Linked DNA regions of Homo sapiens: regions 1 and 3 are each reported to be linked to region 2. The links are microRNA targets in miRTarBase. Many come from high-throughput screens and were not tested one by one. Region 2 holds a microRNA gene; each other region holds the end of a gene's coding sequence. Distances are from middle to middle.
What was found. The annotated mature microRNA hsa-miR-6888-5p reads AAGGAGAUGCUCAGGCAGAU and lies in region 2 at 1,041-1,060, opposite strand. An mRNA with a match to its seed (bases 2 to 7 or 8) in the 3' UTR can be bound and repressed. Matches are read on the target gene's strand: a 7mer-m8 pairs with bases 2 to 8, a 7mer-A1 pairs with bases 2 to 7 and ends in A, and an 8mer does both.

Region 1: miRTarBase lists GAPVD1 as a target of hsa-miR-6888-5p. Seed matches in the 3' UTR shown: 7mer-m8 at 2,268-2,274.
Region 3: the mRNA of IAH1 is a reported target of hsa-miR-6888-5p. Seed matches in the 3' UTR shown: 7mer-m8 at 1,508-1,514 and 7mer-m8 at 2,093-2,099.

What each region holds. Positions count from the first base shown.
Region 1 is chr9:125,362,200-125,365,456 of GRCh38, forward strand. GAPVD1 (GTPase activating protein and VPS9 domains 1) reads left to right here. Exons shown (of 28, transcript NM_001282680.3): 28 at 407-3,257. The coding sequence ends at 547. Among named protein-coding and RNA genes, the nearest start is that of GAPVD1, 100 kb to the left of the region's middle.
Region 2 is chr2:159,184,643-159,187,899 of GRCh38, reverse strand. MIR6888 (microRNA 6888) reads right to left here and starts at 1,065; the gene lies at 999-1,065. It overlaps TANC1 (tetratricopeptide repeat, ankyrin repeat and coiled-coil containing 1), which reads right to left. Exons shown (of 27, transcript NM_033394.3): 15 at 2,001-2,109; 16 at 876-998. RefSeq lists a cis regulatory region at 2,213 and an enhancer at 2,129-2,298.
Region 3 is chr2:9,487,609-9,490,865 of GRCh38, forward strand. IAH1 (isoamyl acetate hydrolyzing esterase 1 (putative)) reads left to right here. Exons shown (of 6, transcript NM_001039613.3): 6 at 539-2,134. The coding sequence ends at 721. ADAM17 (ADAM metallopeptidase domain 17) reads right to left here. Exons shown (of 19, transcript NM_003183.6): 19 at 878-2,910. The coding sequence ends at 2,569. Among named protein-coding and RNA genes, the nearest start is that of IAH1, 15 kb to the left of the region's middle.

The DNA of each region.
Region 1 (3,257 bases), not on the chromosome of region 2:
CTTTTTTAGTTTTTTCTTTCTCAGCTTATTCTCCCTGGACTTACCAGATATAACTCAATTTGCCTACAGCATTTATTTTGTTATCTAACATTCTGAAATCCGGGGATGTTGAGTAAGACCACAGAGATTAGTTCAGCCTTCTTAGAAATCAGTGAGGTTAAGGACTTGCAAGGATAGAAACCTCTAGATAGATTAGCTGAGATTAGAACCTGGGTTGCCTTTCCAGCATATTATTGCTACTCATGGAAACTAGGGTTCACAGATTACTTCCAAAAAATAACTTTGGGGTTGTTTTCAAAAGGATTGGTATGTCTTTCATAGAAGAACATTCGAAGAACACTTAAATGATTTTGGCAGAGCTATGACATCTGAGTAATTGATTCTTTTTTATTTTTCACTTCTCTAGGCAAATCCACCCTGTTTGCTGTCTACTGTGCAGTATATCAGTAGCTTTTATGCTAGCTGTCTGTCTGGAGAGGAGTCCTATTGGTGGATGCAGTTCACAGCAGCAGTAGAATTCATTAAAACCATCGATGACCGAAAGTGACCAAGACCAAGGCCCACCAAGGCAGCAGACTGTTAATCAGACAAACAGATCTCTGAGAAGGTGCATCAGCTGCTTTGAAGGCTGAAGATTGTTTTGTATGATACTGCACAGCATCAGGCATTTTAAAGCAGATCTTTACTAAACAGGTTAATGAGCTAACAAGCAGGTTCTCTCGTCTTTGGGCTCTTTCCTTTCTGAGTTGCATATTCTATTTTCTTGTCCCCAAGTAGAGACTAGTACTACAAAAAGGGACCACATTTTTCAAGTATTTCTAAGTATAAAAAACAAAACAAAAATCTCTTAGGAAATGTCTAGACCTCCATTCTTGGATTCCCTTTCTTTCCTTTTATTTTAAAAAAGAACAGTACCCCTCTTTTAAGATGCTGTCTTACATTAATGAGCATCTAATGGAAAGAAGGTATGAGTTGCACTGAGGATTAGAATAGTGGTGCGTTAGTGGCATTATCTATAAATACACTCACCTAAATTGAAAGCTAAGAAGGAAATGTAAATATAATATATATTTATATTTGATGTAATATGGACATCTGCAGATTCTAATAAACAAGGACTATTGCTGATAGTAGGCTGTGACATACTGTCTTGTGAAATGGTTTCCTTGACAAAATTTAAGCTGAGCTTAAAAGCAAAAAACAAAAAGTACACAGAAATATTTATTAAAATGTAATACAGTTTATTGAACTTTCTAGGTATGGAGTTTGATGGACAGGGCTGCCTTTAATGAGTGTGAAGGTCACTAAGTCACTTAGACATCTCACCGTGGAAGTTTGTGAGCCTGCATTAGGAGATAGACTGATTACCATACATGACATAAAAAGGAACAGTGGATAGCTCATACTTTATGGTGGTTCTTCTCCTCCGAAATAATATACTGCAGAAATCCCAGACAGAGCTCCTTACAAACCTTTAATTGTAATATATTTTTGATGATTATTCACATTGAATGCACAGACCAAGAATTCAGTGAATGTCATTTTTTAAAAAACTAATTTGTATTGTCTGCTCTAGTGATACAAGTTTTACTAGTGATAAACTATTTTAATCAACCATACTATTCTTATGGAAAAAAATATCTATTTTGGCAGGTTTCTGTGCCTTTATTTCCCTCTTCTGAAAAAAAGTCTGTGTTTTCATAGTTTGGTTTGCATTGTATATCAATAATTAATCAGGAATGGGTTTTGGTGCCTGAAAAATTGGCCATGGAGGCACACCAAAGCTTCAAGCACAAGTCTTGTACATGGGCCATCACTGTCTGGTTTCACTTCGTGTGTTTCCTAAACACATTTAGCTGCTTTTTTAACAAACTCAGCCCCATACTTGAGTCCCTTGTTGTTGGGAGCATTTCCAGGCATCTTTTAAGGGAACTGTGACAAACAGCCTCGGGCAGATGAACACGGAGGCTCTCTGTTGTCTGTCTCTGAGATCTTTGTGTCTGGGAATGCCTAAAGATTTTATTTTTTTTTCTTTGTTTTTATTTTATTTTATTTTATTTTTTTGAGACAGAGTCTCACCCTGTTGCCCAGGCTGGAGTGCAATGGTGCGATCTTGGCTCACTGCAACCTCCACCTCCCAGTTCAAGTGATTCCCCTGCCTCAGCCTCGCGAGTAGCTAGGACTACAGGCGCATGTCACCAAGCCCGGCTAATTTTTGTATTTTTAGTAGAAACGGGGTTTCACCATGTTGGCCAGGATGATCCTCAATCTCCTGACCTCGTGATCCACCCGCCTTGGCCTCCCAAAGTGCGGGATTACAAGCGTGAACCACCCTGCCCAGCCAGAAACTAGATTTTCTTTATGCCTCCACCCCTTCTTATTCATTTACTTTACAATACCAAAATAACAAATTGCATAGGAGTGTGGGATGTGGTTTCTGCCTTCTAGAGAGAGATCAGAATTAAACTAGTACTATGAAATGTCCTTTTGAATGTTAGGTCAAGAAATCCATGTACAGAGTCGTGCACTTCATTGGCTGTAACTGTCAAACTTGCCTTGTATTAGAAGTTAAATCCCATCGTAAATACATCACGAGGCCAGCTGTGTGATTTCTGAGACCTAGATGAGAGTCCATTTACTTCAGCCTTTGATTCAGTAAATGTTAAGCAGCAGAAGACTTCGAATGGTTGAAATTCATTGTTACAGGATTTAACTCATAAACCAATGAGAGATTTTTTTTTTCTCTGCAATGGTTGCTAAGTCTATTCCATGTTAACACTGTGGAAATAAATATGAAGATGTGGACATTGCATCGGGGCTCTTTTCTGTGGAAGAGAAGGTGGTGGGATTGGGGTGAAGGGCTACACTGGAGGCAGGAGATAGGGCTGTGCTGTGTTGGAGCCGGGGCTGAGGGTAGACCCCCCAGAGATTTGACATCTGTGACACCTGTGAAATGGGTTCGGGTGCTCATGACTCCATAGCTGGCGGAGGAGCACAGCACAGCTGTTGCAGGGGCAGCTAAGGTTTCCTCTGAAAATCTGTCAGGAGCAAGGACTACTTTGGCATTAACCATCACTGTTTGATTTCTTGACAGGTATGTGAGATGGGGAGTGATTTGATTTTTTTTTTTTTTTTTAATAGAAAAGAGGAATAGTTGTTCCCCAAATGTTTCTTCCTCCACTGCCTTCCAGTACTTTCTTTACATGAAAGATTAGTGTAAAAGTACAAAATCAGCCCAGGAAACATTCAGCAGCCAC
Region 2 (3,257 bases):
TAAAATAAATTCTATGCCCAGAAATTCATTAACATATGAAAACATATTGCCATTTTTATTCTCATCTTTCTTATGATTATAGAATTTTATTAGTTATGGAGAAGCCGAGAGATACACTCTTAGCTGAAATGAAAGATGAAACAATGTGAGTGATTCGGGGGGAAGACCTGGCTCCCTAAACTGACCCAGGGCTTCCACAGGCAGCCGGGTACATCAGGGCCTGAAGCTGAAAGGCCTGGACACTGTCTCTGTGGCCTTAACAGGCTGCTTGGCCTCTGTGTGCTTCAGATTCCCAGGCTACATGAAATCAGGAAGAAAAATCTACCTTAAAAAGCTGAGTGGAACATCATGACATGAAAGCCACTGACCAAGAAGTGAAGAAGCTCTTGGCTCCACAGAAGGCCATGCTGATACCCTTTCCATAGGCAGAAATATGGATACATGAAACCTCGATGTTTGTTTTTCTGTGTACTTATCTCTATGCATCACCCATCCATGCTTAATTTCCCATGAACTCTGAAGAGATGGTCCAGATTAGTAACGCAGGACACTTAAAAAATCCGTTTTCCCTAGAAATCTCTCTGATCTTTGATTTCTTTTGTAAATTGCTTCCTTATCACATCTGCTGTGAAACAGTCACCACATGTGCTCAGAGCAGCCCTGACCACCCACATCTTCCTGCCAAAGAAAAGCTAAACTTCTGGAAGAACGAGTAATACAGCACCCAAGCCCGTGTGATCAGGGAAGCACATCTTTAGAAGCTCCTCTGCGTCCTCTCACCACCACCCAGGGCAGAGGGAAACAGGGCTGTTGGAGGAACGGCCAGCAGCCGGCCAGGGCTGGGTCTCCGGCTCTCTGTGCAGAAGGTTGCTCACCTTCACGTTGGGAGTATAGAGATTCCTGAGAGAGGCCAGGGCGGCGGACAGCCCCTCGGTGCTGTAGCCGATCCACAGGGCTTGGAGATGGCTTGAAGAAATTCCCGTCTTCTTACTGAGGCCCTGGAAACAATCGAGACAGATCTTGGAAACAATCAGAGACAGATCTGCCTGAGCATCTCCTTCCCACCTGCAGGGTCACTCTGAAAGTGGGTCTGCCGCAGAGGGTGCAGATACCTGCAGAAGGCACGGGGTCACACACAAAGAATGCCTGGACATGCGAGCTTTCACTACCTGAAACCAAGGGTCAAGGAACCAGCCTGCCTTCACTAGGTTAACTTTGTGCCTTGGGAGAGAGATGGCAGATGAGAGTTTCTCTTTGAGTCAGAGTCTTGCTGTGTCGCCCAGGCTGGAAGTGCAGTGGTGCAATCTCAACTCACTTCAACCTCCACCTCCCAGGCTCAAGTGATTCTCATCCCTCAGCCTCTCAAGTACCTGGGATTACAGATACATGCCACCACTCCCAGCTAATTTTTGTATTTTTAGTAGAGACAAGGTTTTACCATGTTGGAAGTAAATTAGAGGAAGAATAAATGACAGAATTAGAATATCACCATCTGAGCCCTGCAAGGTGGAGCGTGCCTATAGTCCCAGTTACTTGGGAGGCTGAGGCGGGAGGATGGCTTGAGTCCAGTAAGCTATGATCCCACCACTGCTCTCCAGCCTGGGCAAACACAGTCAGAAAGTCCAGGTGGTACAAAATCACACAGGTCAAGAAACTCAGGTTCTCGAACAAATCAATAATAAGGAAACAAAAAGTAATGAACAAAGTGGAACCTTTAGATAAAAAGAAACTTATCAGAGATTTAAAGGTGGAAAGAAGTAAAACTTAAGCACAGCACTCTGATATACACTTGAGCAATCAACTATAGCAAAATGCAAGGAAATGCCCAGGCTGAGTCAGAACAGCGGTTACTTTTGGAGAGGGGAGGCAGGAGGAGGTTGCATTTGGGCTGAGGTGCATGGAGCGTTTCTTGGATGGCTGACAGAGCTGTCTAAAATCTCCAAAGCAAAACCTCAAAATGACAACAAAGAAACCCTTCCCCAAGTTGGTGTGCATCTCACCTTGAAAATGTGCGCCTTCAGGATGTGGTGGCCAAGCTCCATGGTCTGCTGGCGGTTCAACTTGCCCTCCTGACGCGAGAACATGAATGCCAAGAGCGCGTGCCCGTTCCTAGGGGAAGGAATACAAAGGCTCACAGCAGAAGAGCCCATTCCACCACACCGCAGACCCACCCTCAATTCACCACCCATTGCCTTAGTCACTGATTTATGCCCGTGACAAAGATGTAAACTCCGGGAGGCTAAGGGTCTCATCTGAGTCATAATGCCTAGCAAAGTGCTGAGCACTTGGTGAACACTCAAATGTGTTTCTGGAATGCATGCATGAATAGACACAGAGCACAGAACCATCCCTGGGCCTAGCCTTCAGGTCCCCTCAGGATCACCACCACTAGGGGTAGACAAAGGACAAGGTCTCACGTGGGAAGGAGAGAAAAGCCAGGCCGTGCTAGGTGACAGCTCATGATCAAGAAAGCAGAGAATTCTAGGCTTGGATGGCACACAAGTCCTTGTGGTGAGAAGAAGGCTAAGGCATCTAAGTGGGTTTGCTGTGGCTGGCACATGGTGGACATCCAGCCAACAGCACCCATTTCCCTTTTGTGAAGGTACCATCCTGCCTATTTTCCTGCCCATTTCCCTTTTGTGAAAGGGCCATCCTGCCCATTTGCCCTCCATGTCCATAGGACTCACTCTGTCTTCCTGTGGATCCCATGCCTTTGAGCCAATTAGTTTCTAAATGACACACAGAGTTGCTTATTCCAATAGGAGTGACTTCTATGCAATGTAAATTACTTTCATTTCTATCATCCTGTCAACTTTGAGCTGTTTGGTTGGGGAAAAGCAGGTAGTTGTGGAGGGAGGAAAAGATAAACATTATATATGTTTTAAAACGCATCCTCCTAGTAGTTGCTAATCTAGATGATTAAAAGCATGCATTATTTAAACTGCATTTGTCTTTCCAGGTGCATGCCTGCTTCTCAAATAGGTTATAAACCGTGTTAGAGATGAGGAAATCAAGGCAGATGGAGGCCAAGGAATCAGTTTTTATACTACAGGGGAGGGCATGACGTTTAAGGCCACACTGCCCACTGAGTCTCGTCCATTGTCTTGTAATGGCCTGAAGTTTTCCCACGAGCACATGCCCTGTCATTCCCTGAACACCTTCCATGTCCCAGATCTTGAGCCTGGGATTCCCCTCCTCCCTTATTCCCATGGAAACCGCTGTCAGCATCTCTCTAGTGCTCTAGGCCCCCAAGGCCT
Region 3 (3,257 bases), 150 Mb from region 2:
GGTTCTCTGTGTGTTCAAACACCTACGTAAATAGCACATCAGTGCTACTGTAGTCCAAGACACCTCTGGTCAGATGCCTACAATGAAAGGGGCTGGTGATATTTCTGTCGCAGGGCCACAAATGAGAGAATGGTACACACTGGCATTTAGAAAAGTTATACCCTCCCTCCCCGGCCTTTTTGTGTGTGTGTGTGTGTGTGTGTGTGTGTGTGTGTGTGTGTGTGTGCGCGCGCGCGCGCGCGCTGTGGGGGGAGACAGTCTATCACCCAGGCTGGAACTCAGTGGTGCAATGATACCTCACTGTAGCCTCCAACTCCTGGGCTTAAGTGATCCTCCCATCTTCGCCTCCCAAGTAGGTGGGAATACAGGTGTTTGCCACCACACCCAGCTAATTTTTGTATTTTTAAAATTTTTTGTAGAGACAGGGTCTCAAACTCCTGTCTTCCAGTAATCCTCGGCCCCAAAGTGTTGGAATGACAGGGGTGAGCTACCACACGTGGCCAGTTACCCACCTTTAACCGATTTCTCTCCCTTCTAGGACTTCTCATCTTATTTATCAGATGGACTACATTTGTCTCCAAAGGGGAATGAATTTTTGTTCTCGCATCTCTGGCCTTTGATAGAGAAAAAGGTCTCTTCTCTACCTTTGCTGCTTCCTTACTGGCGGGATGTAGCAGAAGCAAAACCTGAATTAAGTCTGCTGGGAGATGGAGACCATTAGCCAATCACAGGAGACCCAAATCTGCTTGTTATCTACAGAACTCAAAGTTGTCAATACGTAGAGGTACGCTTTTTTCCTCAGGCTTAAACCTTTGCCACTGATATTAATAATAAAAGTATTAGATGATTTTTCAGGGAAGTTTTATACTTAGGTCCATTGTGTTTCGACAGTATTTATTAATGCAGATATCAGTGCTACAGCTATAAAATATACCCTGAGCAGCTTGTTAATTCTATAAATGACAAAGACTATGTTTTTAAAAAGTCACAATTTTATAAAAATGGTTTTTCTTACATTCTTTTGAGAACTGTTTCACTCATACATACACCCACACACCCCACTCAACCTTGTATCAAATTCCAAAAGTGTAACTAAAGTATAAGAATATCATGACTAGTTAAAAGATAGCAAATACCATAAGGTACAAGTTCAAGTATTAGTATAACAAGTATCTGAGTAACAAATGTCCTTGGAAATGGGGGGTAGGAGGAGATATGATTAGTCACAGGTTTGGTTAACTGCCCTCAAAATTTACAAGTTAAAATGTTTTGGCTGGTGAGCACATTTCAGTTCTTAGGGGAAAAAAAGCTTTTAATGGCAATTTATAGAAATCAGAATCCAGGCTAATGATTTTTATCCTTCACACAGTAAATGCAGCCCATCCAGAATCCTGGAGCAATAAAGTAAGAAGTAATTCAAATATCTGCTTGTGGGTCAATAAAAAGGGTTTCTGAAGTATCAAGTCTTGTGGGGACAGCCCCCAACCCTAAGGGCAGGTAGTATTCTATCTCCTGGCTGGCTCATCACATTCAAAACAACCTGTTTTTTTTGTTGTTGTTGTTGTTAAGAAATATCTCACCCTCTTATTCAATAGTGTTTGAAAACAGGCAATCTTTGTATTTTAAATATTCTAGGTTTGTAGATAGTGAATTTTTTTTTTTTTTTTTTTTTTTTGAGGCAGAGTCTCACTCTGTCACCCAGGCTGGAGTGTAGTGGCGCAACCTCAGCCTCTCCAAGTGCTGGGATTACAGGCATGAGCCACCACTCCCAGCCAATAGTGAATTTTCTAAGAGCATGTATCCCTATCAGTAACAGGGATACATGAAGATACTTATAAAATACAGAAAAACTGCCCAGCAAATCAGGGCCCTAAACAGTTGGTAGATTCCATAAATTCAACTGGCTACCATGTATAGCCCTCACTGTAAGGTAGGTGGTTAGGTTTCTAGAGAGCATTAGTCTTAGAATTATGAAGAGCCATATTAACCCAAATGATTTCTAAATTTAGATATATATTTTCCCTGCTACATAAAAACTCTGGGTAATAACTAGAAATAGACCCACAATTTAGAGACAATGTATACTAGATTTATCTCCTTTGTTTTTAGTTGAAGGCAAAAAAAAAAAAAAAAAAAAAAAACTATTCCAGTTGTCATCACAAATAAATGCCAAATGCCTCATATTCAGCGGTTCATTACAGTGTATAAAAAAAAACTGATCATTTCCCTAGTCAGTGCTGTTATCAATATAAAAGATTAATTTACAAAAACGTAAATATTCATAACCCAATCCAGCTGTATTTTCTGCTTTTGCACCACAGGTCAAAAGATATTTTAAAAACTAAAACCTGAAAGCCTCAAAATAAGCTAGATTCACCTTCACCTTACCTTTTCAAAAGGAGAAGGGCCAAACCACACAAGAACTGTTTACCTGCAGGAAGTTCAAACACATGACCAGCATCTGCTAAGTCACTTCCCAGTCTTCACAAAATACAAGCTGTGATTGATTTGTAGGTCAAATCTATAAAAATATTTTGCACACTTAAGTCAGAAGAGCTGAGAACTAAATTAGCACTCTGTTTCTTTGCTGTCAACACGATTCTGACGCTGCAGTTTAAAGGAGGCAGCCTTTTCACTTCTGGTGACCGGATGGTCCGTGAGATCCTCAAATGACTTGGCAGCTGTGCTGCTATTTGGGAAGGGGTCCTTCTCAAACCCATCCTCGTCCATATGTGAGTCTGTGCTGGGGTCTTCCTGGATGGTGTCCATTCTCTGGTGGTCCAGTTTTGGAGCTGCTGGCGCCGAAGGGATCACAGGGGCAGGCTGCAGGCGGCCTGGAGTCTGGGGCGCAGGAAAGGGTTTGATAATGCGAACCGATGCAGAATCCATGCTGCTCAGCATTTCGACGTTCTGCAAAGACATGGGTTCAATTGATTGATAGGAATAAAAGATGAATCGGAGGTCCTCACAGCTCCACCCTTACCCATCAAACAGCCTCTTATTCTGTTGGCACTGTGATGCTAAGAAAAAAGTGCTAGGTGAGGCTCACTCAACCTAAGTGACTAAAAAATACTAGGTTGGTGCAAAAGTAATTAATGCCATTACTTTTAATGGCAAAAACAGTAATTACTAGCTTTCAAGCATCCTGAAAACTTACTTACCATTTGAAGACCCAAAAGAGGATTCAAACCTCTCAAGGTAAGATCCCAAGAGAGAAATTGAACTCAAAATATTAACTAAGTGTTGAATGGCTAAAT